Linked DNA regions of Homo sapiens. The protein of the gene in region 7 purifies or fractionates together with the protein of the main gene of each other region. This does not show direct contact. Each region holds a gene or a part of one and is shown on either strand. Other genes may lie near its edges. The genes, in order: POLR3B, RRP12, SMARCA4, TRMT1L, APPL2, POLR3H and POLR3F.

Region 1 (4,009 bases), on a different chromosome or scaffold from region 7:
CATGAATATGCATATTAGGTACCGAGGATTCAGATTAATGGGAGACAGAGTCTGCCCTCAGAGAGCTCAGTCTGCCGGGAAAGGCAGAAAAAATGACTAATAACAATCAACTGTGGTAGTGGTTAATGCTAGCCACCATTTGTCATTTTAATGGAGACACTATATGTGTAAGGCTTTAACTTCTTCATTCAACCCTATGAGGTTGGATTATTCTTGTCATTTAAGAAATGAGGAAACTGAGGTTCAGTGAGGCTAAGTAACTTACTGAAAGCTAAAGAGTGGTGGAATCTGTTTTTTATTTGAAAGTCCTTAGGATTCGTTTGACGCATGATTTTGCCCACTATAGTCTGTTGCTACAAACTGAGCTTTAAAGGAGGAGTAGGATTGTGTTAACTTGGAGGTAGGTGGGGAGGAGAAAGGCTGAAAAAAGGCAAGAATGAAAACATGGAGGCATGAAGAAATAAAATAACACTAGATCCAATGGAAAAGTAGGTTCCTTTTATTCATTCAGTAAGTATTTATTAAGGGCCTATTGTGCACAGGTACTATCTAGGAGCCGGAGGTACAGAGACGAATGTGACATGGTGTCTGGTTTGAGGGGCTATGCAGAGACATCAGCTGAGGACATTGCCTTGTGTCACAAGCCTTTTCTAGCATTACCGTAGTTATTCTGTGTATACCTCGGGTAGTGTTGAAGCACAAGGCAGTGAGCCAGCAGTAGCTGGAAGTCTGTCAGAGCTGGGAGAGTGACTGCATGCTTTCTTTCCTCCAGCATCCTTTCCTCCTTCATATGACACTACCTCATTTTCTTTTGAGGACTGCCTGTCCCCATTGGCAGGCTTCTTGGGATGGTCAGTCCAGCACCCTCTTCTCTTCAGCCAGGGGTTGGGCATATGACCCAAATGAGGTCAGTCAGACCCCCTCATCAGAGAATTTGAATCCCAGGTAAAATAAATCAAGGGAGGGAGGTGGTTGGACTTGATTCATTCTCCCAGTGCTACATGCAAGAGACTGCCTGTTAAACCTCATTTTCTGGATTCTTGGAACTGCTCTCGTTCCTTTTCTTTCTGAGGCTGAGCATTTCACCTTTTTCTTTGATTCTTATCCTTCCATTAAATTATTTTTTTTTTTTTGAGACAGAGTCTCACTTTGTCACCCAGGCTGCAGTGCAGTGGTACGATCTTGAGTCACTGCAGCCTCCGCCTCCCAGGTTCAAGCGATTCTCATGTCTCAGCTCCCCACCCCCGTCCCTGACCCAGTAGCTGGGATTACAGGCACACACCACTGCCCCTGGCTAATTTTTTGTATTATTAGTAGTGATGGGGTTTCACTGTGTTGGCCAGGCTGGTCTCGAACTCCTGGCCTCAAGTGATCCACCCACCTCAGCCTCCCAAAGTGCTGGGATTACAGGTGTGAGCCATCGCACCCAGCACCTGTAAATTCTTAATGCTTCCAGTAAACTTCATTTTTGCTTAAATTAGCCAGAATTGGTTTCTCTTCTTTGCAACCGAAGAATGGTTAGCTGATGATATACCTGTGTTTGAATCCTAACTTCCCACTTACTGAGTTGTGTGACTCTGAGTATACTACTTCAGTCTCTCAGCCTTGGTTTCCTTGGCTGTAAAATGGAAACAATAATGCCTGCCTAAGATTGTCCTGAGAACTAGTTGATAGAAGGTGTGGTAAGTGCTCAGTAGGGTGCCAGGCACACATTAGGTGCTTATTTATAACTTAATAGCATGGTCCAGTTAAGGGCAGGAATAACAGTGACATTTTCTAGGTTACTCTTTTTTAGGATTTCATTACATCCAACATAATATATATTCAAAAATAAAACTCTTTTATAGAAGCAACTTTATAATGGCATAACAGATCTAGCAGGAAAAAATAGTAGAATGCGTTGAGTAACGTAAGGATAACTGAGGCAGCTAAATGTGATCCCCTCCCTCTCCTCCGCCGGTTTCTGTCTTCTCATCTGAGGCTTAACCTGAATCCACTGCAGCGCTCAAATGAGGCATTAGTAGGCTCTGCTTCCCTACCAAGAAGGAGCCAGAATTTCGAGGTACTGTGGATTTCCATGAAAAGCTCACCCAGTTCATTTTTCAACAACTTGTGTTCCCCTTTTGTAATTGTGCAGCTCCTCTTCTTAACTGTTGAAAAGTGCTCATTAGTCCTCAAATAGTTATTTGGACTTTAGGGTAGAGCGCACAAGTGTCTGGTGGTTACTTGCTCCTCTCTGTAAGAGCTGCTTATCCAAATAGCAACAGCCCTTGACGTTTCAGTGCCGCATGCCATCCTTTGTGTCCGGGTTTCCTCATGGTGGCAAAGCCCTCCGAGGCAAGTCCCCACTGACAGTTACAGGTTAATCTGCCAGAATGCCTTCTCCACCTTCCACCCATTACGTCACTGAAAACCACAAAGTAAGAAAGCTTCATTCTCTGCCAACTTTTAGCCACTCTCTTTGGTAATGTGTAGCTTTAAGTATCTTGCTAACCTAGCTCAGTGATGTTTAGACTAAATCAAACTACTCTAAACATCTGGATATTCATCAGAACCTCACAACACAACGCCGTTATTACCCTAGGTGACAGTGCTTCTTTGCCTGTTAACTCCATGAGTAGTATGCAAAATTTTCCAATGTGAAATCGGGAAGTTTTTAGATTGATACATTACACCGTTTTTTAAAATATGGCATTAAAGGTTTTGTTTCCTTTTCAGACTTTGAGTATCATTTTTGTGTTGCCTTTTCATTCAAAACCAAATGTTTCCTAAGATACTTGCAGGAAGCACTGTGTGTGTGCATGAATATGTCCACACATACTCACATGTACACATGGGCTTGGGTATGTATGTGTGTGTATGTGAGAGAGAGCATAGTCCCCTACACCATGCTCATCCATACAAAAATTACCTGGTGTCCTCAGCAATCCAGGAATAGGTTTGTTTGTATTTACATCTTCCCTCATCTCACTTTGGTAAACTAACTTGCCTGTGTAATTTTTCCCTGGAACTATTATTAATTTGGTTTGCTGTTTCCATTCTAGACCCTACATAATTGTCAAGAAACAGAAGCCAGCAGTCACAAATAAACATATGGAAGAGCTGGCCCAAGGGTACAGGTAAGTAGCCAAAAGTAAAACTTACCAATCTCCTTAATACCCACATACATGATTTAAGAAAAGTGTATTTTCATTTTAGTGTTTTAATTTCTTTCCACCAAATTACCAGCCTGTTAAAAACCTATTTTGCTCCATGTGAACTTGCTTGGACATTGTAAAATATTCATCAATTTAGATCATGAGGGTTACCTAGTCTTGATGTCAGTTAGTACACAAGTAAGTGTTTCTGGTAAGAAAAGGACTTACATCATGTGTCAGTGTAGACACTGTGGGTCTCATTATGAGGTTTCTAAGGTCAGAATTTTTTTTTTAAGAAGTGGGGACTAGGTTCACAAGAGTTACAGACAGACACTTTGCTGTTTTTATTTCAGCAGTTTGTGGTTACTGTGTGAGCTAAGAATAACATGTTTCAGGTATCCCAATGTAATGATATTCTCTGGGAGAGAAAGGTGCTTTGGGCCTAAACGAAAGCCAGTATCTCCTGTTATTATATAAAATACTGCAGAAAAATGCTTTTTAATGATGTCTCTTTCACCAATATTTTCCCAGGAATTTTGAAGATTTCTTACATGAGAGTCTGGTTGAATATTTAGATGTGAATGAAGAAAATGATTGTAACATTGCACTGTACGAACACACAATTAATAAGTAAGTAGGATCCATAGCAACCATAATTAAAACGTGTTCTGACTATAGAAACTACCTTCTCTTTTACTGTCATCTTCAGTCCTTCTATCTTTTACTCTTTTGACAGGAACTGTTAGAAATATACAATCTTCTTTTTTTTGTTTGAACATGCAGGTTTGTTACATAGGTAAACGTGGGCCATGGTGGTTTGCTGTACCTATCAACCCATCACCTAGGTATTAAGCCCAGCATGCATTAGCTAT
Region 2 (4,009 bases), on a different chromosome or scaffold from region 7:
TGAAAACGGGGATGTGGGGGAAGTCTGTAACACTTCAGGCACTATGCTAATGCACTTTACACGCCCAATCTTACCAAACTGTCCCAATGACTCCACCAGGTGGTCTATTTATAACCCCACTTTACAGATCAGGAATTGAGGCTTTAAAAGGTTAGGCTGAAGCCAAGATGGGACCCCAGAGTCTGCCGCTTCCCCACCGATATCACTATACCCTGATGTAGGCTCTGTCACCTACGGGTGGTGCCCAGGAAGGCTGGATGGGCTGGGGCATAGTCTGGAAGGGCAGAGAGGGAAGAAACTGCTCCAGAATGGAAATGTTCCACTGAGCTTGAGACTGACAGGTGTTGGGTGATGGGTTGGGCCCACTTCACCCTTGTTGGTTCAGGTGGGGCAGCTGAGAGGCTGTTTCCATCCTGGCAGGCAGCACTGCCAGGTCAACAGGGGTAATGGTGGCAAAGAGGTTGAATTCCTGGGCTTAGGAGACTGGAAAACCAGGGTTCAAATTCCTGGTTTGCACAGACTGAGTCCTGTGACCCTGGGCAGGCTACTTACCTCTGTACGCTCCTCTGGTCACTGGGACAACGGAGTCCCTATCTTCGTGAGGCTATGTGGGGCCCTCAGCACAGTGCTGGGCACACAGCCATGCTCCCCTACGGTGGATGCCCCCACCCCATGCAGGAGCACACAGGGAAGCTGCTGCCCTTGCCCCTGCATAGCACATGCCCTCGCTAGAGAGACAAGGGTCTCTGCCTTCTTTCTCCTTTAACTAGACAACCATCACCCTGTCCTGCCTGGCACCCACAACCTTCTGGACCGCCTGCTATGCACACCTGTGAGGATGCACCGAGCATTCCAGAAACAGGGCAGTTCCAATGTCTACGTGTGGTGGGGGTGAGAAGCTGTGGAGCCCAGGCTTAGGTCTGAAGCCCTAGCCCCCCATCTGCAGGAACTACTCACATTCCTGATGATCACATCTTCCATTGGGTCAGCCATCTCTTCATCTTCGCCTGGAGCCAAAAAAGAGAGGCCCATGAGCGCTGTGGGAGCTCCTCAAAACCTACCCTTTCCTTCTGCCCCCTCCTGGCTCACCAGGCTGCGGGGCCACCAACTCCGGCCCCAGAAAATTGCCTTCCTCAGACCAATATCATCCTTCTGCTAGAAGAGATGAGACCCCTGAGCACTGCCCCTTTCTCCTTCCCACCCTAGGCCCTAGGGATAACGGCCCCTCAAAGAAGCGGTGATCCTACTTTTGAGGTGAATATGGCTTCGTTTGAAACTTTTCTTTTCCCACTCACCCACCCTTCATCTGTTTGAGATTTGAAGAAAGCCCCAGGTTTCCGGGGGAGTCAGGCGCTCCTGCAGCCCCATACACACCCCCACTGTGCCAGGAAGGCTTCATTCTCCTGTTTGAAATCTCTGCCCCATGCAGTATGTGCTGGGCTCCATGTGGGAATATAAAGTATGAAACTGACCAATTGGAGGGAAGAGAAACTCAGGCAAAGTCAATCAACAACCAAAAGACGATAGAGAGCACGTGACCGGCCATGTGTGGTGGCTCACACCTGTAATCCCAGCACTCTGGGAGGCCGAGGAGGGAGGATCACCTGAGGTCAGGAGTTCAAGACCAGTCTGCAACATGGCAAAACCCCATCACTACTAAAAATACAAAAATTAGCTGGGCATGGTGGCGCACGCCTGTAGTCCCCGATACTTGGGAGACTGAGGCAGGAGAATCACATAAACTCAGGACATGGAGACTGCAGTGAGTCGAGATCGAGCCACTGCACTCCAGCCTGAGTGACAGAGCGAGACTCTATCTCCAAAGAAAGCACATGACCAAGGGCTGAAGACTGGGTTTCCTCTGGGCTTGGCAGGAGTTCTGGGGGAATCAGGCCTAAAGGCTGAGGTGCCCAGGAAGGGCTACAAAAGGAGCTTTGAGCTGAATCCTGAAGAGCAGGGGGGTTTGGAAAGGCAGAGAGAGAGGGGAGGGGTCCTGACAGCCTCAGGAATGCCTGGGCACCAAGGGGGACAGGAGATGGGAAAGTATACAGGGGCGAGAGAGGAGCAGAGAAGACACTAGACACGGAAATATAACAGGCACATGTACACCAAGTACATACGCTGTCCCCATTACACCGATTCATCTTCATTCCAACCCGGAAAAGTGGGTATTAGGATTGTATGATATCCACTCTGAAGCAAGGAAACGGAGCTAAGGAGAGGCTGACCGAGCGGCTGCAGTCGTGTGGCTGGTGAGTTGGGTGCATGTGGAGCAGTGAGGCTCCAGTTAGGAGGTGCAGTGAGACAAGGGCCCAGAGCTCGCAGCACTGGGAACCAAACAAAGGGATGACAGGTGTGTTCTTGAAGACCTAGGTGTTTTTTTTTTTTTTTTTTTGAGACAGAGTTTCGCTCTGTCACCCAGGCTGGAGAGCAGTGGCACAATCTTGGCTCACTGCAAGCTCTGCCTCCTGGGTCCACGCCATTCTCCTGCCTCAGCCTCCCGAGTAGCTGGGACTACAGGCGCCCGCGACCACGCCCAGCTAATTTTTTGTGTTTTCAGTAGAGATGGGTTTTAACCGTGTTAGCCAGAATGGTCTTGATCTCCTGACCTCCTGATCTGCGCGCCTTGGCCTCCCAAAGTGCTAGGATTACAGGCGTGAGCCACCACGCCTGGCGAAGACCTAAGTGTTTCTTAGCTAATGGCTGGATATGTGGAGAGGGGCCAGGAAAGACTAAAGAGAGCTCCGAGATGCCACACCGGAGGGACTCCCGGGCAATGTGAGACATTGGGATTGGGAAGTTGGGAGGGTTTCAGCCTCTGGCTCTTTCTGCCTCTAAATCATCTTCAGGGCCTTAGCCAAGTTTGCATTAAAAAAAAAAAAAAAAGAGGAAGGAAGAAAAGGAGAAAGGAAGAGGAGGGGGAGGAGGAGGAGAAAAACAGAAGAGACTAACAGCGTATCACACACAGTAAGGGGAAGTACCATTTCCGATAGTTTCCTTTAAGTTAAATATGTATTGTATAAATGGCTCGGTTACAACATAAAAAGATTTCTTAATGTTTCTCAAAAAAAGTTTGAGAAACTCAAAAAGTTTGAGGAAGCTGCCGAGAGAAGAGTTTCTCTGGTCTGTTTTTAGCCACGCTTCCTCAGCAAGTGATCACCGAAGGAATAAGTGAACACGGTGAATGAATGGACAAGCGCGTTGGGCCCACCTTTGGCACCTTCCTCTTCCTCCATCTTGTTGCCGTCTGCCTCCTCCCTTATGATCAGCCGGCCATCGGCGCTCACCTTGAAGCCGTGGTCCTTCTTCCTGCCCCGGCCTGGCCCTGGCTGCGTGGCTGGGGTGTAGAGTTTGGCATGAGGAGGTGGAAGGCCAGTCCCATGCTACTCACCCTCATCATGACCAACAAGCCCGGCTCAGGGATCCCAAACGGGCGCCTCTCAGCCCTGTCCATGGGCCTGCCATGGATGCCACCCCCTACCCACCACCTGAGAACCTGGCACCATGGCAAGTCTGTTTTCTGAGTGCACTGGCCAGCCCTGTGCTTACCCAGGACTCGTTGGGCCACCTTGGGATCCAGGAAGTTGAGGGGCTCGTCCCCACCGCCCTCTTTCAGCCATGCCCGGCTCCTCTGTCGTGCCAGCTTCCGCTGCTCCTTGCCTCGGCTTCTTTCCTCCTCCTCATTGTCCTCCTCGTCCTCTGAGTCAGCTAAAATCTCCTCAATGCTAAGGACAAAAAGCCCCCAGTCAGAGTGCTCCCAGGAGAGGCGGGGGTCAGCGGGTATTGCCTGGGCAGGCCCTTGGGTTGGGGGGACACCGGGTCCCATGGCCCTAACATGGTCTCACCTGTCACCTTTGCCCTGGGCGGGCTCCTCCTCCTCCTCCTCCTCTTCTTCCTCCTCCACGGCAGCCTGGCTCAGGGCTCGGTGCCTCTTGGCCCGGGCCTCAGCTTTCCGGATGTTGACCAGGACTCTGTGGTACTCCTCGGGCAACAGCCTTTTCACCAGCTC
Region 3 (4,009 bases), on a different chromosome or scaffold from region 7:
TATCCAGAGGACTCCGGGTTTCATTCCAAGTGCGGGGAGGCTGCAGCATGTCCCTCTTTAATATAGAGGTGAGGGAGGCTCTCAGCACCCTGCCTGTTGCAGGGAAGCCTGAGGACAGGACCTCCAGGGAACTCTGCACCAGAGCGGAATCCTCAGACCGGCAACTGGGTGGTCTTGATTCATCCAGAACGTAATTCTCCTAGAGGTCTGGGAAGGGGTGCTCTTGTACCTTGGTTTTGTGTTTTGTTTTTGTTTGTTTTTTGAGACAGAGTCTCACTCTGTCGCCCAGGCTAGAATGCAGTGGTGCGATCTCGGCTCACTGCAACCTCTGCCACCCAGGTTCAGGTGATTCTCCTGCCTCAGCCTCCCGAGTAGCTGGGATTGCAGGTGCCTGTCACCACGCCTGGCTCATTTTTGTATTTTTAGTAGAGACGGGGTATCACTATCTTGGCCAGGCTGGTCTTGAACTCCGGACTTCGTGATCCACCCACCTCAGCCTCCCAAAGTTCTGGGGTTACAGGCGTGAGCCACTGCGCCCAGCCGCACCTTGTTTTTTTTTTGCTGCCTGTAGCTGTTTCTCATTAGCCTGATGGAGGTGGCTGTTGGGGTGGTGGGGTGCTTATTATAAAGCCTTCTGCTGTCACAGCCCTGGGGTCTCACTTCCTGGGCTCTCTGCATAGGGAGCCGCCCTCCAGGGCAAGGGCCACAGTGTGCAGTAAGCCCCCCATGGCCACAGGGCAGGGCGTTTCAAGCCAAGAGTCTGCACTGTTTGCTGGCCACTAAGGGCATTGAATGGATCACAAAACTGGCTTTTTTTTCCCCCAGTCAAATAGAAATGGGGTTTTGCCATGTTGTCCAGGCTGGTCTCAAACTCCTGGGCTCAAGCAATCCTCCCACGTTGGCCTCCCAAAGTGCTGGGATTACAGGCACGAGCCACCATATCTTTAAAAATGTAATAGAATGGAAAATGGCAAAGCGCGCTGCTTTTCATAGAAGAGACTATCGCATTGGGGTTCTTCTGTTGCCCCTGCCTGTGCTGCACGTCCTGCTTCACAGTGTAAAGCGCAACTCTTGCTGTGCCTTATTGTAACAGGTATAGGGTGGATGCTGCCATCATGAAGAGAGAGGAGAGCTCTTTGCTTATAAAATTCCGTAGAGTGGAGAACAGGATGTGCCGGCTTAGGAGAGGGAAGAGGTACAGGCCCGCTCTGCCCGAGCTGCAGATGGGACACACATTTCCCGACTCAGAGGGGAGTCGTGTCTTTCTCCAGGGTCACCGAGCAGCAAGCGCATCCACTGTGTGTTCTTATTTTCTGAGCCTGTGGACTGGGTTTACCAACAGTTGCCTGTGGCAGAGCCGGCCACCAGCCCGCTCATAGGAAAAAGGAAGCCTGTGCCTCCAGGGAGGGCCCACGATGGGAATGCAGTCTGAGAAGGGTATGTGCTCCCATGCTGGACCGGCTGGTCCCACACCCAGGACCAAAAACACCTCCTGGCAGGAGATGGGGAGATGTACTTCATGAACACACGTTGGGGAAGGACACTCCTGGAAGGCAGAGGCTCAAGGCGGGCTGTGTCCAGGCCAGGAGATTCACTCCCACCTCAATTTCCTCCTCAGCACGGCTGGCCTGGCACTGGTGCCTGCTTCAGAGTTTAGTGTGTGTAAAGTGTGGCTGGCCCAGCAAGCAGGGGATGATGGCGGTTGTCAAGGCCAGGGGAGGTGCAGGGACAGGATTCTGGCTCCCGTGTGTAACGTCTGCATCTCAGGAGGCTCTCATGTTAGAAGCTGGGTCAGGGGCTTCGTGATGCACACAAACACCAAACAAGCAGGAGGCCTTCCGGGATCCTGCTCACGAGCAGCTTCCTGGAGGCAAGCCTGGCCCGTCTGCCCCTTGGTGACATCAGGACCCCAGCAACAGAACCAGGGAAGCCACCATGTTGTCGCTGCCATTTTCCAGCGTGGTAAACAGAAGCAAGACAAGGCGCACTCAGGACACCCAAACAGACGGCGGGGCCAGCCAGTGGCATGGGCGGGCTGCCCTGCCCTCTGGAATTTTCTGGGAAAGAACATAAGGAAAGAAGCGGTGCTGATGAGGCAGCTGGAGTTATCAGGACCCAAGCTCAGCTCCTCCTTCCCATCAGGCCCCGTTGGCCACTTTTAGGCTTCGTCCGCCTGGTGGCTCCCTGCTTGGGGCCGTTCCCTGGCTAGGCCCTTCCTCTGGGCCAAAGCAGAGAGGAGAGCGCGTTTGCCATGCGTTCTCATTTTCCCAGCCTGCGGGCTGGGTTCTGTCAGAGCAAGGTCAGCTCTCAGAGCTTCTGTCCCCACCCACCCTGTCCTGCTGAGCCAGGCTCAGGTATGGGTAAGAGCTGGGAGCGCTGTGCACGAGGCCTGGCAGCATCTCATCACTGCCGCTGTACCGAGTGCACAAGGGCGCTTCCTGTGGTGTTCAGGGGGTTAGATCAGTCCCCAGTGAGGACAGAGCAGAGATCCAGATGCATCCCAGGCCGGCTGCAGTGGCTTCTGCCTCTAATCCCAGCACTTCGGGAGGCCAAGGCAGGCAGATCACGAGGTCAAGAGATCGAGACCATCCTGACCAACATGGTGAAACCCTGTCTCTACTAAAAATACAAAAATTAGCCGGGTGTGGTGGCTGGCATCTGTAATCCCAGCTACTCGGGAGGCTGAGGCAGGAGAATTGCTTGAGCCCAGGAGGCAGAGGTTGCAGTGAGCCGAGATCATTCCATTGCGCTCCAGTCTGGCGACAGAACAAGACTCTGTCTCAAAAAAAACAAAAAACAAAAAAATGTATCACAGGCCTGTTTGTGTGGTTGTCTCTGGGAAATGTTCCAGAAGCTACAAGAAAGCACATGTGCAGGCCAGGCATGGTGGCTCACACCTGTAATCCCAGCACTTTGGGATGCTGAGGCGGGCTGATCACCTGAGGTCGGGAGTTTGAGACCAGTCTGACCAACATGGAGAAACCCTGTCTCTACTAAAAATACAAAATTAGCCTGGCATGGTGGTGCACGACTGTAAAAAATCCCAGTGACTCCAAAGGCTGAGGCAGGAGAATCTCCTGAACCTGGGAGGTGGAGGTTGCAGTGAGCCGAGATCGCACCATTGCACTCCAGCCTGGGCAGCAAGAGCGAAACTCCGTCTCAAAAAAAAAAAAAGCGCATGTGCAAGAAATAGCTCCTGAGCTGAGTTGGAATTTCTCATCCTTAAACAATGTGGGAACCTGCTGAGGTGGGGTGGGGGCTCCCGGGTGGGCGGACTCGGGGGTGATAGCCGCCGGTTCTGCCTTGCAGCAGCAGTGGACGTCAGCTCAGCGAGGTCTTCATCCAGCTGCCCTCGCGAAAGGAGCTGCCCGAGTACTACGAGCTCATCCGCAAGCCCGTGGACTTCAAGAAGATAAAGGTAACCCTGACGTTGTACCTGCGCCCCGCATGTGCCCGGAGGGGAGTCTGACCCAGGGGCACCCCCATCTGAGAGCTGTGGTGTGTGGGCAGAATGACCAGAAACCACCTAGGCGGTGCCTTGGGCTACCTGGTTAGGGACCTGGTCGTGGGCTTTTGGGGTTCCTTGTAAGGGTTGGGGGTGTCCTGAGGGATGTCAGTGGGCAGTCGGTGTTGGGTGTTCCTTCAAGGTCCCACTCACTTAGTGCTGGGCCTCAGTCATGCAGTTCCCATGCCTAGTGAGCCAGGTTACCGAGGCTGGCGCTTCGGCCACATCCTCATAGGCACGAGGAATCCTAGCCCGTGGGGTCTCCAGCACACAGCCAGGCCTGCGGGCAGGCGAGGCGGGGTCCTGAGGTAAGACCTGCTCCTCCCGTCCACTGCAGGAGCGCATTCGCAACCACAAGTACCGCAGCCTCAACGACCTAGAGAAGGACGTCATGCTCCTGTGCCAGAACGCACAGACCTTCAACCTGGAGGGCTCCCTGGTGAGGGCACCGCTGGGGGTTGGGGATGGGCCACTCCCACAGCTGGGCTTTGACCCAACCCGCCC
Region 4 (4,009 bases), on a different chromosome or scaffold from region 7:
ATTTAAAAGTTATAGAAGAGCCCACAAAAATTAGTCTAATTTCCTTAATTTACTTATGAGAAAGGCTCACAGATTAAAAACAAATTTTTTTTTTGAGATGGAGTTTGGCTGTGTTGCCCAGGCTCACACAATCCTTACACTATCCTCCCACTTCAGCCTCCTGAGTAGCTGAGATTACAGGTGTGTGCTACTGTGCTCTTGGCTTTTGAAAATATTTTTAAAGCTTATTTATGTTTTACTTTATTCTAAAAAGGATTTAAGATAATTTTGCTGAATGGGAGGGACCTGGCTGAGTTTATATAACAACGCCTGCATAGGATAATACTCTTAAATCTAATTTTTTTTTTTTTTTTTTTTTTGAGACAGTCTCGATCTGTCACCCAGGCTGGAGTGCAGTGGTGCAATCTTGGCTAACTGCAGCCTCTGCCTCCTGGGTTCAGGCAATTCTCCCACCTCAGCCTCTCAAGTAGCTGGTATTACAGGCTTGCACTGACACACCTGGCTAATTTTTGTGTTTTTCGTAGAGACGGGGTTTCACCATGTTGGCCAGGCTGGTCTTGAACTCCTGACCTCAAGTGATCTACCCAACTTGGCCTCCCAAAATGCTGGGATTATAGGCATGAGCCACTATGCCCAGCAAATCTAATATTCTTTATAGTGTATCATAATGCTTCTTTGTCTTCCCTCCAACAGAGAAATTAGGTAGAATGTATCAATTTAAGTTATCAAATTAGTTGAAGATGCCAAATGAACATGGCTGTTGCAAAGAGTATGCAGTAGTTATTTAAACTATATACTATTAAAAGAAATTTAAGTTTCCTTGTCTTTGAAGGTCAACATTAAACTGCTGAGCAACTAATAAAAAATTACAGCTGATAACTAAAGGCCACTGCTCTTTCAAACTTAACACTCTACAGTCTTCTTTTCATCTGTACTCAAAAAACACATCTAGAATCTAAAGTTTTTTAAAAAGCAAAACAAAACCTTAGACATTAGGGCACTGATATTTTAAATCTTAACATCCTTTAATATGAATTTAGTGTCTACCACAGCTAGATTTAAAGTATGCACATATCCTAAATTATATGAAAGGCCATATAATAAATTCTTTTGGCTGAAGAATGAGGTCTTCTGGTTACTTAAATGGAATTGCTATAAATCATATATTAATGAGCAATTTTTAAAAGAATTAGAATAAAATTTTATCTTAACTATAAAATTATATATAACTTTATCATATATAATTTGATCTTATTTTATTCACATGGTTCAAGATCATACAGTTCGTTCAAAGGGATAACCATATATTACAGATGTGAACAAAGCATATGTTAACAGAAATTTCCTATGTGTGAATGCTGATAAACAAGTTTTACTACAGTTTTGTTGTCATATAATATGAAATGTATTTTTAAGTAGGCTACCATGGCAATCTCTTCTCTTCCTACCCTTTTGCTATATGCCTTTTTGACCTGATATGTACATATGTACACACATATATGCATACATACCTTGTGCAATGTAATTATCTGTTGTGGTGTCATCTGTAGTTTTAATAAATACACCATTTTCTTCTAAAAAATAAAGCAAATGGGAAAAGAAAATATTTTACAGAATGACATAAAGCAACAACTCAGTTTAAATAAAAGTTTATGAAATTCCATCCACACTATTTTCACGAATATGCAAGAGATTCTGTGGCCAAACTGAACTGCAAAAATTACATTTTTAACCCTCTATAATAGCAGTTTCTAATTATTTATGAGAACACTAGGATATTCAATAGGCTCATATCAATAGTCAGATACAACTACAAAATTGGCTGTTTGTACTAAACAGAAAAAACACATAGCTTTACTGAATGAGAAGTATAAATGTAGTTTCTGTGTCTTCATAGATATTACAATTTTTGGCCACAACACTCCTTGAATTACCAAAAGTTTCTTTTTCTAGAAAGCACATCTAGGGTAATAAAAATCACAAAGGACCTTTAGTGTTTTTTTTTTCTTTTTTTAAATCTAGTAAAATTAAAAACACACAAAAAAGGAGGTTATCTTTAAAAAAAAATTATCAGGGCATGGTGGTTCATGCCTGTAATCCCAGCCACTTTGGGAGGTCAAGGTGGGAGGACTGCTTGAGCCCAGGAGTTTGAAATCCGCCTGGACAATATGGTGAGACCCCATCTCTAAAAAATATTAGCCAGGTGTGGTGTGCATGCTTGTGGTCCCAGCTACACAGGAGGTTGAGGCTGAGGCAAGAGGACTGCCTGAGTCTAGGAGGTTGAGACTGCAGTGAGCCATGTTTGTGCCACTTGTATTCCAGCTTGGGTGAAAAAGTGAGACCCAGTATCCAAAAAAAAAACAACAAAACCAACAACACTATTCATCATTCACCTATTCATCTCAGGCCTGATTACAAGCCTGAATAAAACTATGTAATTAAAAAAAAACCAGAGGATCAGACTCATTAGAGAAGATTTACTAAAAACACACTATTTATAATTATATTGGTTTTATTATAACATCAAATACAATTGAAAAAGATACAGTATTTTTGGTAAGCAGTTTAAAGCTAGTAAGCTAGCGTTCAGTTAGTCACCTTGCTTGTTGACATTTGAAGATGCATGAATTGAAAACTGACTTTGAGGCGTACACTCTGATTCAAAGATTAATGTCTTTATTAGGGTCTGAATGTCATCCAAACCATGGTGAAGAGATTCAAATAGCATTCTTTTGAGGAATCCAGTATTGAAAAGGGAACTTGACCTGAAAAGAAAAGAATATACAGAGAACTGGGTTTGAAAAATGTTTCTCTTTAAAAAGAAAGTCTTCACAATTTAACTATAAGTAAGATATATAATTAATTATATGACAGAGTAATACTTAAATTCAAAAAGAATTTATGATTTAATTTAAAACTGTTTATTTTCTTTATTATTATTATTCTTTTTTGAGATAGAGTCCCGTCCTGTTGCCTAGGCTATAGTATTTTATTATTTTTTAATAGAGATAGGGTGTCATCATGTTGCCCAGGCTGATCTCAAACTACTGGGCTCAAGGGATCCTCCTACCTTGGCTTCCCAAAGTGCTGGAATTACAGGTGTGAGACACCACACTTCTGGCCTAAAACTTTATTTTCTATTTGCCACTCATTTTTATCATATCAGTTCTCTAAACTAGTAGCATTAGTCAAGGAAACTTAATTAAGTCAACAAGAATCTATTGAGGCTGGGAAGGGGAGAAGGGAGAGGGTGATGAAGAGGGGTAAAAGAATATAAATGTATTTATTACCACTGAAGTGTATACTTAAAAATGGTAAAGAAGGAAAATGTTATATGTGTATGTTACCTTAATAAAAAAATAATTTATTGAACTCTCATAAGGTATACAGTACTGTGGTACACAGAGGGTGTGTGGAGGATATACCAAAATATAATATACAATGTTGACCTTATAAAAGCCTATAAATCTAGACAGGAAAATAAAGCAATGAAGAGGTTTTCACAATGCACATTCTAGTCACTAATAGAAAATCTTAATTCTGATGAGTTTATGGTGGTAGGGTGGGGCAGGACAGGGCAGGGGAGCACATATATGAGAATTATATGTGGTGATGGTATGGTTCAGAAATAGTCTGGGGTGAATCTGATATGCTTCCCATTTAATTTAAGAATCACAGGTATAATGGACAAAATATGAAATTCTGAGTATGATAAACTGGATTCCAATCCTGGCTCCACCACTTACTAGTTATGTAATCTTTTTATTAAGAGACAGGGTCTCACTATGCTGCCCAGGCTGAACTTGAATTCCTGGGCTCAAGGGATCCTCCTGCCTCAGCCTCCTGAGTAGGTGGGACTATAGATGTCTGCAACTGTGCTGGGCTAGCTATATAATCCTGAGTAATTACTACTTTTCAGTCTTATATTCCTCATCATGAAATGTAAAATAAAACTTTTTTCTTTTTGGAGATGGAGTCTTGCTCTGTCGCCCAGGCTAGAGTGCACTGG
Region 5 (4,009 bases), on a different chromosome or scaffold from region 7:
ACTAGCCTGAACTGAGATGTGTTTTCAGTGTTAAATACATACCAAATTTCTAAGATTTAGGATGTAAAACATCTCACTAATTTTTTAGGTTAATCACATGTCTGGTAATATTTTAGATATACTGGATTAAGTAAAATTAATTTTATCTGTTACTTTTCACTTAATGTGGCCGCTGGAAAAACTTCGATGACATATAAGGCTTCCATTACATTTCTAAGGGACAGCACTGCTTTAGAGCCAGAATGTCTCAGTTTATTCCTGGCTTCGGCATTTCTTAGTTATGTGACCTTAAGCAAATTTTTGAGCCTCTGTACCTCAGTTTTTTCAGCTGTAAAATGAAAGTAACTATTCACACCCTCCACTGTTGTCATGAGGAATAAATGTCATGAGGAATAAATGTGCTAATATATGTAAGACATTTACAACTCACTGGCACATGAAAAGTGCTCAATGAACGTTAGCTTCAAAAAAGGTAACTAGGACTATAGCAAAAATTAGGATATAGCTTCTTCCATTCATTAAGCCCATCCTTTTCATTTATTATGAACCTTATCTGAGAATTAAGTTCTTATTAATAAAACCTGTTCTTTCACTATGTCCTGGACCTTTTACAGAAATGGGCTCATGGTTCTTATAATCCTATTGGTCCTGGAATAATTTCCACCAAAAAGATCAAAGGAAAATATATGTAAAAGTACTGTGAAAAACCACAGCACATCAAAGTGAAAAGAAAAACTACAGAATGGGAAAAAAGTATTCACAAATTCTATCTAATATGGATGTAGTACACAAAATATACAAAGAACTCTTATAAAACTCAACAGAAAGACAACCCAATTAAAAAATGGACCAAGGACTTGAAATAGACATTTTTCCAAAGATCATATACAAATGGCCAATGAGGACATGAAAAGATGCTATGTGTTACTAGGGAAATGCAAAACAAATCCACAATGAGATATGTCACTCCATATTAAGATGGCGTGCGCACGCATGCACACTGTCTCACAGATGTTTATATATATATGATATATATGATATATATATGATATGATATATGATATGATATATGATATATATATGATATATCATATATATGATATATATGATATCGATATCATATATATGATATATATGATATATATATGATATATATATTTAATGGAAAATAAGCGTTTAGCAAGGATGTGAAGAAACTGGAACCCATTGCTGGTGGGAATATAAAATGGTTCAGCTGCTGTGAAAAAATAGTTTGGCGGGCTCCTGGGTAGTTACCCAAAAGAATTAAATACAGGTGTTCAAACAAAAACTTATACGCAAATGTTCATAGCAGTCCTTTTCGTGATATCCAAATGGTGGAAATAATACAAATGCCCAACATCAAATGAATGGATCAACAAAATGTGGTAGAGTTGAGCATTCCAAATCTGGAAATCTCAAATGCTCCAAAATCTGAAACTTTTTGAGTGCCAACTTGATGCTCAAAAGAGATGCTCATTGGAGCATTTTGGATTTTGGGATGCTCATCCTGGTAAATATAATGCAAGTATTCTAAAATCTGAAAAAAAAGCTGAAATCCAAAACAATTTCAGATACAGGATACTCAACCTGTATATATATATGATGGAATACTATTTGGCCTTAAAAAGGAACAAAGGACTGATAAGTGCTACAACATGGATGAATGATGAAATCATTGTGCTAAGTGAAAGAAGCCAGGTACAAAAGGCAACATACTGTAGGGTTCTGTTTATATGAAATATCCAGAGTAGGCAAATCCATAGAGACAGAAGACAGACTAGAGATTGCCAGAGGGTGGGAGGAGGAATGAGTAACTGCTTAATGGGGATGGAGTTTCCTCTGGGATGATAAAAATGTCCTGGGACTAGATAGTGGTAATGGCTGCACAAAGTTATGAAGACACTTAACATCACTAATGATAAATCTGACGTTATGCATACGTCACCACAGTAAACATACCCCTGCAGTGGAATAGGTTCTGAGACCATTTAGAGGTCACACAGAAAATTAGAAGATTTAAAAAGAAAAATTGATTCCCAGACAAGGTGCCTGAATAGGAACAGCTCCAGTCTGCAGCTCCCAGTGAGACCAACACAGAAGGCAGGTGATTTCTGCATTTCCAACTGCGGTACCCAGCTTATCTCACTGGGACTGGTTAGACAGTGGGTACAGCCTATGGAGGGCAAGCAGAAGTAGCGTGCGGCATTGCATTACCCAGGAAGCACAAGGGGTCGGGGAACTCCCTCCCCTAGCCAAGGGAAGCCGTGAGTGAGGGACAGACCTATCCAGCCCAGATACTAGGCTTTTGCCACTGTCTTTGCAGCCCGCAGACCAGGAGATTCCATCGAGTGCCTACACCACCAGGGCCCTAAGTTTCAAGGACAAAACTGGGCGGCCATTTGGGCAGACACTGAGCTAGCTGCAGGAGAATTTTTTTCGCACCCCAGTGGCGTCTGAACCTCAGCGAGTCCCAACTGTTCACTCCCCTGGAAAGGGGGCTGAAGCCAGGGAGCCAAGTGGTCTTGCTCAGTGGATCCCATCACCACGGAGCCCAACACACTGAGATCCACTGGCTTGAAATTCTCACTGGCAGCACAGCAGTCTGAAGTTGACCAGGGATGCTCGAGCTTGGTGGGGGGGAGGGGCATCCGCCATTACTGAGGCTTGAGTAGGTGGTTTTCCCCTTAGAGTGTAAAGAAAGCCATCAGGAAGATCATACTGGGCTGAGCCTGCCGCAGCGCCATAAAACTGCTGTAGCCAGACTGCCTCTCTAGATTCCTCCTCTCTGGGCAGGGCATCTCTGAAAGAAAGGTAGCAGCCCCCAGTCAGGGGCTTACAGATCAAACTCCCATCTCCCTGGGACAGAGCACCTGGGGGAAGGGGTGGCTGTGGGCGCAGTTTCAGCAGACTTAAATGTTCCTGCCTGCCAGCTCTCAAGAGAGCAGCAGGTCTCCCAGCACAACGCTTGAGCTCTGCTAAGGGACAGACTGCCTCCTCAAGTGAGTCCCTGACTCTGGTGGTTCCTGACGGGGAGACACCTCCCAGCAGGAATCGACAGACACCTCATACAGGAGAGTTCCAGCTGGCATCTGGTGGGTGCCCTTCTGGGATGAAGCTTCCAGAGGAAGGAGCAGGCAGCAGTCTTTGCTATTCTGCAGCCTCCACTGGTGATACCCAGGCAAAGAGAGTCCGGAGTGTACCTTCAGCAAACTGCAGCAGACCTGCAGAAGAGGGGCCTGAAGGAAAACTAACAAACAGAAAGCTATAGCATCAACATCAACAAAAAGGATGACTACACAAAAACCCCACCCAAAGGTCACCAGCATCAAAGACCAAAGGTAGATAAATCCACAAAGATGAGGAAAAAGCAGCACAGAAAGGCTGAAAATTCCAAAAACCAGAATGCCTCTCCTCCTCCAAAGGATCACAACTCATTGCCAGCAAGGGAACAAAATTGGACGGAGAATGAGTTTGAAGAATTTACAGAAAGAGGCTTCAGAAGGTGAGTAATAACAAACTCCTCCAAGCTAAAGGAGCATGTTCTAACCCAATGCGAGGAAGCTAAGAATCTGGATAAAAGGTTATAGGAACTGCTAACTGGAATAACCAGTTTAGAGAAGAACATAAATAACCTGATGGAGATGAAAAACACAGCACGAGAACTTCGTGAAGCATACACAAGTATCAATAGTCAAATCGATCAAGTGGAAGAAAGGATACCAGAGATTGAAGATTAACTTAATGAAATAAAGTGTGAAGACAAGATTAGAGAAAAAAGAATGAAAATGAGTGAATAAAGCCTCTAAGAAATATGGGACTATGTGAAAAGACCAAACCTATATTTGATTGGTGTACCTGAAAGTGACAGGGAGAATGGAACCAAGTTAGAAAACACTCTTCAGGATATTATCCAGGAGAACTTCCACAACCTAGCAAGACAAGCCAACATTCAAATTCAGGAAATACAGAGAACACCACAAAGATACTC
Region 6 (4,009 bases), on a different chromosome or scaffold from region 7:
GTGATCAAGGTCACTCTCCCTGCCCGTGGCTGAGTTGGGCCTGGTTCTAGGCTGTGTCCACTGCAGCCCACAGGCCCGTCAGCCTCTTGCCCCTTCTTAGGCTCACACAGTGCACATCCGACGCTCAGCTTCCCGGCTTCCCGCAGGCCCTGCTTCCAGGCTTGTAGATCTGAGCCGCTGAGATCTAGGACATGTGCCAGGGGGTTCTTTCTGATCATGAATGTGCAGCAGGAAGGCCTCGCAGACCTCAGCACCAGCGCACACTTGCTAGGGGCACCCCTAGTGAAAGGGAGCAGACCAGGGCCCCATAGTCACTGCCCGGGCATTGTCCCAGGCAGCAGGATTAGGGGCATCTCCCAGAGCCCCAGATGGGTTCAGAAAATGAAGCTCTCCAGGCTAGTCAGGCCCCCGATGACCGAATGCCGCCTGCTTTCCAGAGACCAACCTGAAGAAACAGGGCCTGCTGCCTCTGACCTTCGCTGACCCGGCTGACTACAACAAGATTCACCCTGTGGACAAGCTGACCATTCAGGGCCTGAAGGACTTCACCCCTGGCAAGGTTAGGGGCCCGGGTCCCCCTGAGGTGGTGGGGTGAGGGGCAGCCACCTTGTTTCCCCTCCTGCACTGGCCCCAGGGTAGCTTCTCCCAGGAGGCTTCATTCCAGCTGGAAAGGCCCCCAGTTCTCCAGGTGGCCCCACAGAGAAAGCAAAGTGGCTTCTCAGAGTTGGGGGTTGGAGTCAACCCGGGGCCCTCACACCTCCCCAACCTCCCTTTACTCACCAGGACCTGGCACTCAGGGGACAGCCCACCCACTGCAGGACCCTCTGGGCCCCAGGAATCCCCTGTAGGTGCCACCTGGGTCTGACCTGGGCCATCAGGCACAGACTGGCCTAGGATTTGGTTTGCCTGCTGACCTCTTAGGTCCCCAGGCAGTGCCCTGTCTCCCTGACCCCCCTGCGGGGCCAAGGGCACACAGTACCCACCACTTCCACCCACACCCACCTTCTCCTTGCAGCCCCTGAAGTGCATCATCAAGCACCCCAACGGGACCCAGGAGACCATCCTCCTGAACCACACCTTCAACGAGACGCAGATTGAGTGGTTCCGCGCTGGCAGTGCCCTCAACAGAATGAAGGAACTGCAACAGTGAGGGCAGTGCCTCCCCGCCCCGCCGCTGGCGTCAAGTTCAGCTCCACGTGTGCCATCAGTGGATCCGATCCGTCCAGCCATGGCTTCCTATTCCAAGATGGTGTGACCAGACATGCTTCCTGCTCCCCGCTTAGCCCACGGAGTGACTGTGGTTGTGGTGGGGGGGTTCTTAAAATAACTTTTTAGCCCCCGTCTTCCTATTTTGAGTTTGGTTCAGATCTTAAGCAGCTCCATGCAACTGTATTTATTTTTGATGACAAGACTCCCATCTAAAGTTTTTCTCCTGCCTGATCATTTCATTGGTGGCTGAAGGATTCTAGAGAACCTTTTGTTCTTGCAAGGAAAACAAGAATCCAAAACCAGTGACTGTTCTGTGAGTGATTGGTGTCTGTGCCGTTTGTTGTCAAGTCCAGGGTCCAGGAAGGGTCTTTTCAGTCAAGGTCAGTGGAGGCCCAACAGCCACAGCCACAGATGGATCCATCACTGCAGTGAAGGAGGAGCAGGGCCTAGATGGTGGAGGAGCGGGGCAAGCTGGTGGGCACTCCTGGCCTTGCCTCACTGTCCAGCTCGAGACACTATCTCCTTAGCATCGGCCTCAGCTGCTGTTGTCTTCACAGCCGGCCATACCACCTTCCCGCAGGCTGGTAGGGTCCACTGTCCAGCCCCAGGGCTAGTTGCTGGTCCACCAGGAGAGAAGGCCCAGGCCTGGCTCACTGATGGATCCCTGCCAGGGATAAAGAACACGCACATTTCACTGACATGCTGGCTTGAACCAACCTGGACAGGAGGTGAAGGGAGCCCAGCAGGCCCAGCACAGGCAAAGAAGAGGCGGGGCACACGGCAGCCAAGAGGCTCTGGAGAGATGTGGGAGCCACAGCAGTGCTCCCAACGGGCACGCAGCACGCAGGGCGCAGACCCTTCTCCAGGGACTCCAGGCCCTGATAGGGTCAGGGACCCTTCCTCACCCTTAGGCCTGCCCTCCAGGGCCACCTAGGTTCTAATCGTGGCAGGAAGGCTGAGCAAACACAAGGCCCATGCTCCAGACGCATCCAACAGGGAGCAGCCTTGAAAGCCACTCTTCCCCGGAGCCCTCCCTTTTATTTCACTGCTGCAATGCTGCTCCTACAGGGAGCCCTACCTTTTTTTTGTTGTTTTTTTTTTTTGAGACAGTCTCGCACTGTCACCCGGGCTGGAGTGGAGTGGCACGATCTTGGCTCACTGCAACCTCCACCTCCCGGGTTCACACCATTCTCCTGCCTCAGCCTCCCAAGTAGCTGGGACTACAGGCGCCCGCCACCACACCCGGCTAATTTTTTGTATTTTTAGTAGAGATGGGGTTTCACCGTGTTAGCCAGGATGGTCTCAATCTCCTGACCTCGTGATCCGCCCACCTTGGCCTCCCAAAGTGCTGGGATTACAGGCGTGAGCCACTGTGCCCCAGCAGCCCTACCCTTAATCTCAGGGCTTTGATCTCTCCCAAGCCCCTTCCTTGATTTCTTTCTCCCTCAAACCCCTCCCTACCCCCCAATTTTTTAAAGATAGCATTTCATTGTGTTGCCCAAGCTGTAATGCAGTGGCACAACCTTGAACTCCTGGGCTTAAGGGATACTCCCATCTCAGCCTCCCAAGTAGCTGGGACCACAGGGCACGCCACCATGCCCTGCTAATTGTTTTTTATAGAGACAACTTCTCACTTTTTTAGCCAGGCTGGTCTCAAACTCCTGGCCTCACACGATCCTCCCACTTTGGCCTCCCAAAGTGCTGGGATTATAGATGTGAGCCACTGCACTTGGCCTCAAAGCCGCTTTATCAGTGGTCTTGTCCACCGTGAGCTCTGTCCCCTTTGCAAGCTGACTCGCCCACCCCACCAGCAGCCATGTACCTTTACTGCCTCACAGCCCTGGCCTACAGAAACTCAGGCTCTCCAGGGAGAAGTGACCAGCCAAGACCCCCCAAACAGGATCCCTGACCTGCTGGGGGAGATCCCAGAGCAGAAGCCCCAGGACACAGCTTCCAGCCCTGCACTCCGGCTCTCCCGCCTCATGGGGGCTTCAGCACCATCAGAGCCACTCACCACAAGCGTGTACGGAGCCTCCTTCTTTGGCAGCTCCTCACTGGAAGTGGTGGCATCTGCTGAGCTGGGCCCTGTGGGGGACGTGTCAACAAAGCTCTCGTCCACCACCCGGAAGCGGATCTCCTCGCCGGTGTCCATGTAGAGGTCGTGTGCTCCTTCCTCCGTCTCGTACTCCCACACCCACACCTGCTCCGCTTCGTCGCTGAGGGGGTCCAGGGTCAAGGCAGCAACCAGATAGTGGGAGGGGCTTCCCTCAGCACCCACTCCCCGACCCCGCAGGAAAAACCAATCTCAGGGTGAGATCACTGTGGCTGGGAAGTCACAGGAAAAGCAGGTCCCAGCCCCATGCACAAGGCCTGGGCCAAACAGAGAGGAACAAGCGCTCTTGGAGGCCAGGACCCAGGAAGGGGAACATGGGGTCCCCAGCCAGGCACCACGGCCAGACGCACATGGATCTCAGAGCACCAGAGCAGGAGGGGACGAGACAGGGTCCGAGTCCCACCTCTCAAGACAAGAGCAACCTGGGCCTCCTGCCACGGAGCCCCACACACCCTTTTCATCAAAGCCTTGTGACAGGCTGATGGGCACCCAAGGACTTGCCGTTTTCAAGAGGACATAGTGGGATGGGAGGTCACCTGCCCACTTGGATGACAGGTGGTGAGAGAACCAGCCGGGCTGCGCCAGGTTTTCTAACACATCCTGGAGTCACATGCAGACCCAGAGCCGTGCTGCCACCCAGCCAGGGCAGTCCCCCTTGGCTCTCCATCGTCCCTGGCAGAGCCCACA
Region 7 (4,009 bases):
GAGAAATCTTATAAAAAATAACATTTCTTTAGCAGGAATTTATTGGAGATTTATAAAATGCTTGAGCAGAAAGGCACTTTAGACATCAAATAGTCCAAGTTCCTAGTTTTTATGAGAAATCTGAGGCCCAGGAAATTAAAGTGACATGTCCAAAATGGCCACTTTGATTTCTTCACTGTGAAAAGCATCAGTGTCCTTAAAAAAAGAATTTCAAAAGGCTAGGGTACAGTGGCACTTTGGGAGGCCAACGCAGGAGGATCACTTGAGTCCAGAAGTTCAAAACCAGCCTGGGCAACAAAATGAGACCCTACCTCCAAAAAAATAAAAAAAGCATCAGTGTCCCAAGCTGAGTATCAGTTCAGACAATGCCCAATGGCAGTGACTGCCTTTGCCTAAGATACAGGACAGTATTTTCCCAAAGTGGATTCTGCAGAATGTTCGTAGCTATCATCTCAAAAAAAAAAAACAATGTGGGTCAAATACATGTTTGGAATACATTGTATGTGACAAAGAATAAGTTTTAAAAAATAAGATGAAATTCAGTTCTGACCTTACTGATTCCCAATTCGCAGATATATTTCCACACTTCATGTGATGAGGCAAATGAACTATTTCTTTGTATCATTGGGTTCTGTTTGCTTTCTCGTGCTGTTTCTGCCTATAAGGATTGAAACATAAGAAATGTAAATAAGAATATTGGTGTGTTTTCTGAATACACTTTATACTGAGTCAAACCAACAACAGAACATATTTAGTTAAGTAAAAATTCCCAATTTCAGGTTTTTAATTCCTATAAAATATGATAAATAGATTAAAATCCTTTGTGAAAAACTTTTTACAAGAGGGTTTGCAGTGATGTTTCCTCAATCATACCTCACCTTGGACTGTAGGAATTTAAAACACTGTTGGTTAAGCACCTCTACAAATTCAGATTCAAAATCCTGGTCACTGTACCAGGCTCCACCAGTCACAGACCGGTCTGGCTGCAGGTTATAGAGCATATACACCTTCTTTTTTGAGGCCTAGGAAAGAACATGCACAGTTCATGTGTTTATAAGATAACAATTTCCAAAAACAAAAACACCTATATTTTGGAACAGTTTAAGATGTACAAAATTATTGCAAAGATAGTACACAGAGCTCCTATATACATCATGCTGTTTCCCCTATTTTTAACATCTTGGATTAGTGTGGTACACTTGTCACAATTAATGAACTAATATTGATAAATCATTACTAACTAAATGCCATACTTTATTCAGATTTCATTAGTCCTAATGTTCCTTTTCTGCTCCAGGATTCCATCCAGGACATCATACTACATTTAGTCATCTCTCTCAGGCTTCTTTTAGTTGTGACAGTTTCTCAAACACCGTATTTCTATCACTATGGACTCATGAGTATTTATTTTATACTTTGATTTACATTCAGATACTTCATTGTTATTCCCACACTGGAAGCTTTGGAATGCTTTGGGCATTGGAAGCTTTTCACTTGGTTCCTGTATCCCTTTGCTATGCTCCCATCGTGTGTGTGTGTATTTTAGCACTTTTTTTTTTCTTTTGGAGACAGGGTCTTGCACTGTCGCCCAGGCTGGCGTGCACTGGTGCAATCTTGGTTCACTGCAACCTCTGCCTCTTGGGTTCAAGTGATTCTCCTGCCTCAGCCTCCCGAGTAGCTGGGGCTACAGGCATGTGCCACCATGCCCAGCTAATTTTTGTATTTTTAGCAGAGACGGGGGTGTCACCATGTTGGCCAGGATGGTCTCGATCTCTTGACCTCGTGATCCTCCCGCCTCAGCCTCCCAAAGTGCTGGGATTACAGGCATGAGCCCCCGTGTCCAGCTATTGTAGCACTTTCTTACTTTCTAGCACTACAAGATGTCAAGAGCATTTTCTTTTCTTTTTTTTTTTGAAACGGAGTTTCGCTCTTGTTGCCAGGCTGGAGTGCAATGGCACACGATCTCAGCTTACTGCAACCTCCACCTCCCAGGTTCAAGCGATTCTCCTGTCTCAGCCTCCCGAGTAGCTGGGATTACAGGCGCCCGTCACTATGCCCAGCTAATTTTTTTGTATTTTCAGTAGAGATGGGGTTTCACCATGTTGGCCAAGCTGGTCTCTAATTCCTGACCTCAGGTGATCCACCCTCCTTGGCCTCCCAAAGTGCTGGGATTACAGGCATGAACCACCCTGCCCAGCCGTCAGGAGCATTTTCTACATGTTCATTTTATTGCATGATAGAAACCACGACTTGGGCACTAGATGTGTTCATTGCCATCGGGATGTCATCACTTCTAGGCCTTCTCAGTTGGCAGCACGAGATTTATGTGCGCATATTAACCCTTGTATATATACATAGCTATACTCAATATTTCTAAATATAACCATCTATATTATTTATATTAAATTACACAAGAGTCCATACTGATGTTTTCAAGTCTAATCCATTACTACATGGATCATTCTAACTTTCCTTGTTTGTCTGTAACTACTCACCCCAACACTGAGGAACCCAAATTTCACTGGGTTGTAAACATGAAGAATTTGGGCCAGGCATGGTGGCTTATGCCTGTAATCCCAGCACTTTGGGAGGCTGAGGTGGGCAGATCTTTAAGTCTAGGAGTTCAAGACAGGCCTGGGTAACATAGTAAAACCCTGTCTCTACAAAAATACAAAAATTAGCTGAGCATGGTGGCACGTGCCTATAGTCCCAGCTACTTGGAAGGCTGTGGTGGGAGGATGGCTTGAGCCCAGGAGGTTGATGCTGCAGTGAGCTGTGATTGTGCCACTGCACTCCAGTCTGGGTGACAGAGCCAGACCATGTCTCAAAAAAAAAAAAAAAGAAAAAAATTTGGCTAGACTTTGTCCCTTTTTCCTAGGAAATAACTTCTACATCTTTGGAATTTCCCAATAGGCCTTGTTATTCATGGTGAATCCCTTAGATCACACCTGGGTTTATGCTAACAAGGTGACTCCTGATAGGACTCTAAATAGTTTCAGGATAGGAGTTGTCCATGCTGGAAAGACCAACCGCATGATTAGAGGGTTGGGGCTTTGGGCCACATGACATCAGTCCAATCTCTTGGGAGAAGAGAGGAGCTGGAGATTGAATTCACTCACATGACCAAGGATTCAATCAATCATGCCTGTATAATGAAACCCTAATAAAAACTTTGGACAGCAAAGCTTGGGTGGGCTTCCAAATTTGGTTAATGCTTCTGTCATACAAAATAATTTCACCACCCTAGAAATATTTCTCATGCTTCACCTATTCAACTTTCCCTACCATCCCTGCCCTCACCCCGATCTTTTTAGTCTGTCTAGTTTTGCCTTTTCCAGTATGTCATATAGTTGTAATCATACAGTATGTAGCCTTTTCGGACTGGCTTCTTTTACTTAGCAATATGCATTTAAGATTTACTCATATCTTTTCATGATAGCTTATTTCTTTTTATAACTGAATACTATTCTGGTTTGTCTATCCATTCACCTATTGAAGGATACCTTGGTTGCTTCCAGTTTTTGATTATGAATAAAGCTGCTGATTACGAATAAAGCTGCTATAAATATTCATGTAGTTATGTGGACATGAGTTTTCAAATCAGTTGGGTAAATACTTAAGAGCTTGACCTTTGGACAATGTGGTAAGACTCTGTTTAGTTTTGTAAAAACTGCCCAGTTTTTTAACAAAAGGACTGAAAATTTTGCATTCTTAGCAATGTATGAGTGTTCATCTTGGTCTGTATCTTGTCAGCATATGGTATTACCAATTTTTAGATTTTAGCTATTCTAATAGGTGTGTAGTGGTATCTCACTATACTAAATTTTATTTTAATTTGCAGTTCTCTAATGAAAAATAATGTAGAGCATCTTTTCATATGCTTATCTGCCATCTGTATGTCTTCTTTGGTGAGGTTCAGATCTTTTGCTCATTTTTAGTTGGATTATTTGTTTTCATTGTGTGTTTTTTTTTTTTTTTCTTTTTTTGAGATGGAGTTTCGCTTTTGTTG

What was found.
Region 1: the proteins of POLR3F (region 7) and POLR3B fractionate together in Homo sapiens (co-fractionation; 4 studies listed by BioGRID and IntAct, with this or other methods). This does not show direct contact.
Region 2: the proteins of POLR3F (region 7) and RRP12 fractionate together in Homo sapiens (co-fractionation; one large-scale study listed by BioGRID). This does not show direct contact.
Region 3: the proteins of POLR3F (region 7) and SMARCA4 fractionate together in Homo sapiens (co-fractionation; one large-scale study listed by BioGRID). This does not show direct contact.
Region 4: the proteins of POLR3F (region 7) and TRMT1L purify together in Homo sapiens (affinity purification with mass spectrometry; one large-scale study listed by BioGRID and IntAct). This does not show direct contact.
Region 5: the proteins of POLR3F (region 7) and APPL2 purify together in Homo sapiens (affinity purification with mass spectrometry; one large-scale study listed by BioGRID and IntAct). This does not show direct contact.
Region 6: the proteins of POLR3F (region 7) and POLR3H purify together in Homo sapiens (affinity purification with mass spectrometry; 4 studies listed by BioGRID and IntAct, with this or other methods). This does not show direct contact.

Annotation. Positions count from the first base shown.
Region 1 is NC_000012.12:106,434,013-106,438,021, forward strand, and holds part of POLR3B (DNA-directed RNA polymerase III subunit RPC2), read left to right. Parts: intron 1-3,044; coding exon 3,045-3,119; intron 3,120-3,668; coding exon 3,669-3,767; intron 3,768-4,009. UniProt on the Homo sapiens protein: Catalytic core component of RNA polymerase III (Pol III), a DNA-dependent RNA polymerase which synthesizes small non-coding RNAs using the four ribonucleoside triphosphates as substrates.
Region 2 is NC_000010.11:97,362,897-97,366,905, forward strand, and holds part of RRP12 (RRP12-like protein), read right to left. Parts: coding exon 3,846-4,009; intron 3,726-3,845; coding exon 3,550-3,725; intron 3,338-3,549; coding exon 3,212-3,337; intron 1,008-3,211; coding exon 958-1,007; intron 1-957.
Region 3 is NC_000019.10:11,054,946-11,058,954, forward strand, and holds part of SMARCA4 (SWI/SNF-related matrix-associated actin-dependent regulator of chromatin subfamily A member 4), read left to right. Parts: intron 1-3,309; coding exon 3,310-3,418; intron 3,419-3,842; coding exon 3,843-3,944; intron 3,945-4,009. UniProt on the Homo sapiens protein: ATPase involved in transcriptional activation and repression of select genes by chromatin remodeling (alteration of DNA-nucleosome topology).
Region 4 is NC_000001.11:185,122,346-185,126,354, forward strand, and holds part of TRMT1L (tRNA (guanine(27)-N(2))-dimethyltransferase), read right to left. Parts: intron 2,766-4,009; coding exon 2,599-2,765; intron 1,575-2,598; coding exon 1,512-1,574; intron 1-1,511. UniProt on the Homo sapiens protein: Specifically dimethylates a single guanine residue at position 27 of tRNA(Tyr) using S-adenosyl-L-methionine as donor of the methyl groups. Dimethylation at position 27 of tRNA(Tyr) is required for efficient translation of tyrosine codons.
Region 5 is NC_000012.12:105,183,755-105,187,763, reverse strand, and holds part of APPL2 (DCC-interacting protein 13-beta), read left to right. Parts: intron 1-4,009. UniProt on the Homo sapiens protein: Multifunctional adapter protein that binds to various membrane receptors, nuclear factors and signaling proteins to regulate many processes, such as cell proliferation, immune response, endosomal trafficking and cell metabolism.
Region 6 is NC_000022.11:41,527,464-41,531,472, forward strand, and holds part of POLR3H (DNA-directed RNA polymerase III subunit RPC8), read right to left. Parts: intron 3,426-4,009; coding exon 3,224-3,425; intron 1,874-3,223; coding exon 1,820-1,873; 3' UTR 1,151-1,819; coding exon of another isoform or gene 1,016-1,150; 3' UTR 560-1,015; coding exon of another isoform or gene 438-559; 3' UTR 1-437. Other genes in the region: ACO2 (aconitate hydratase, mitochondrial precursor), read left to right, coding at 438-559, 1,016-1,150.
Region 7 is NC_000020.11:18,477,051-18,481,059, reverse strand, and holds part of POLR3F (DNA-directed RNA polymerase III subunit RPC6), read right to left. Parts: intron 1,023-4,009; coding exon 879-1,022; intron 659-878; coding exon 551-658; intron 1-550. UniProt on the Homo sapiens protein: DNA-dependent RNA polymerase catalyzes the transcription of DNA into RNA using the four ribonucleoside triphosphates as substrates.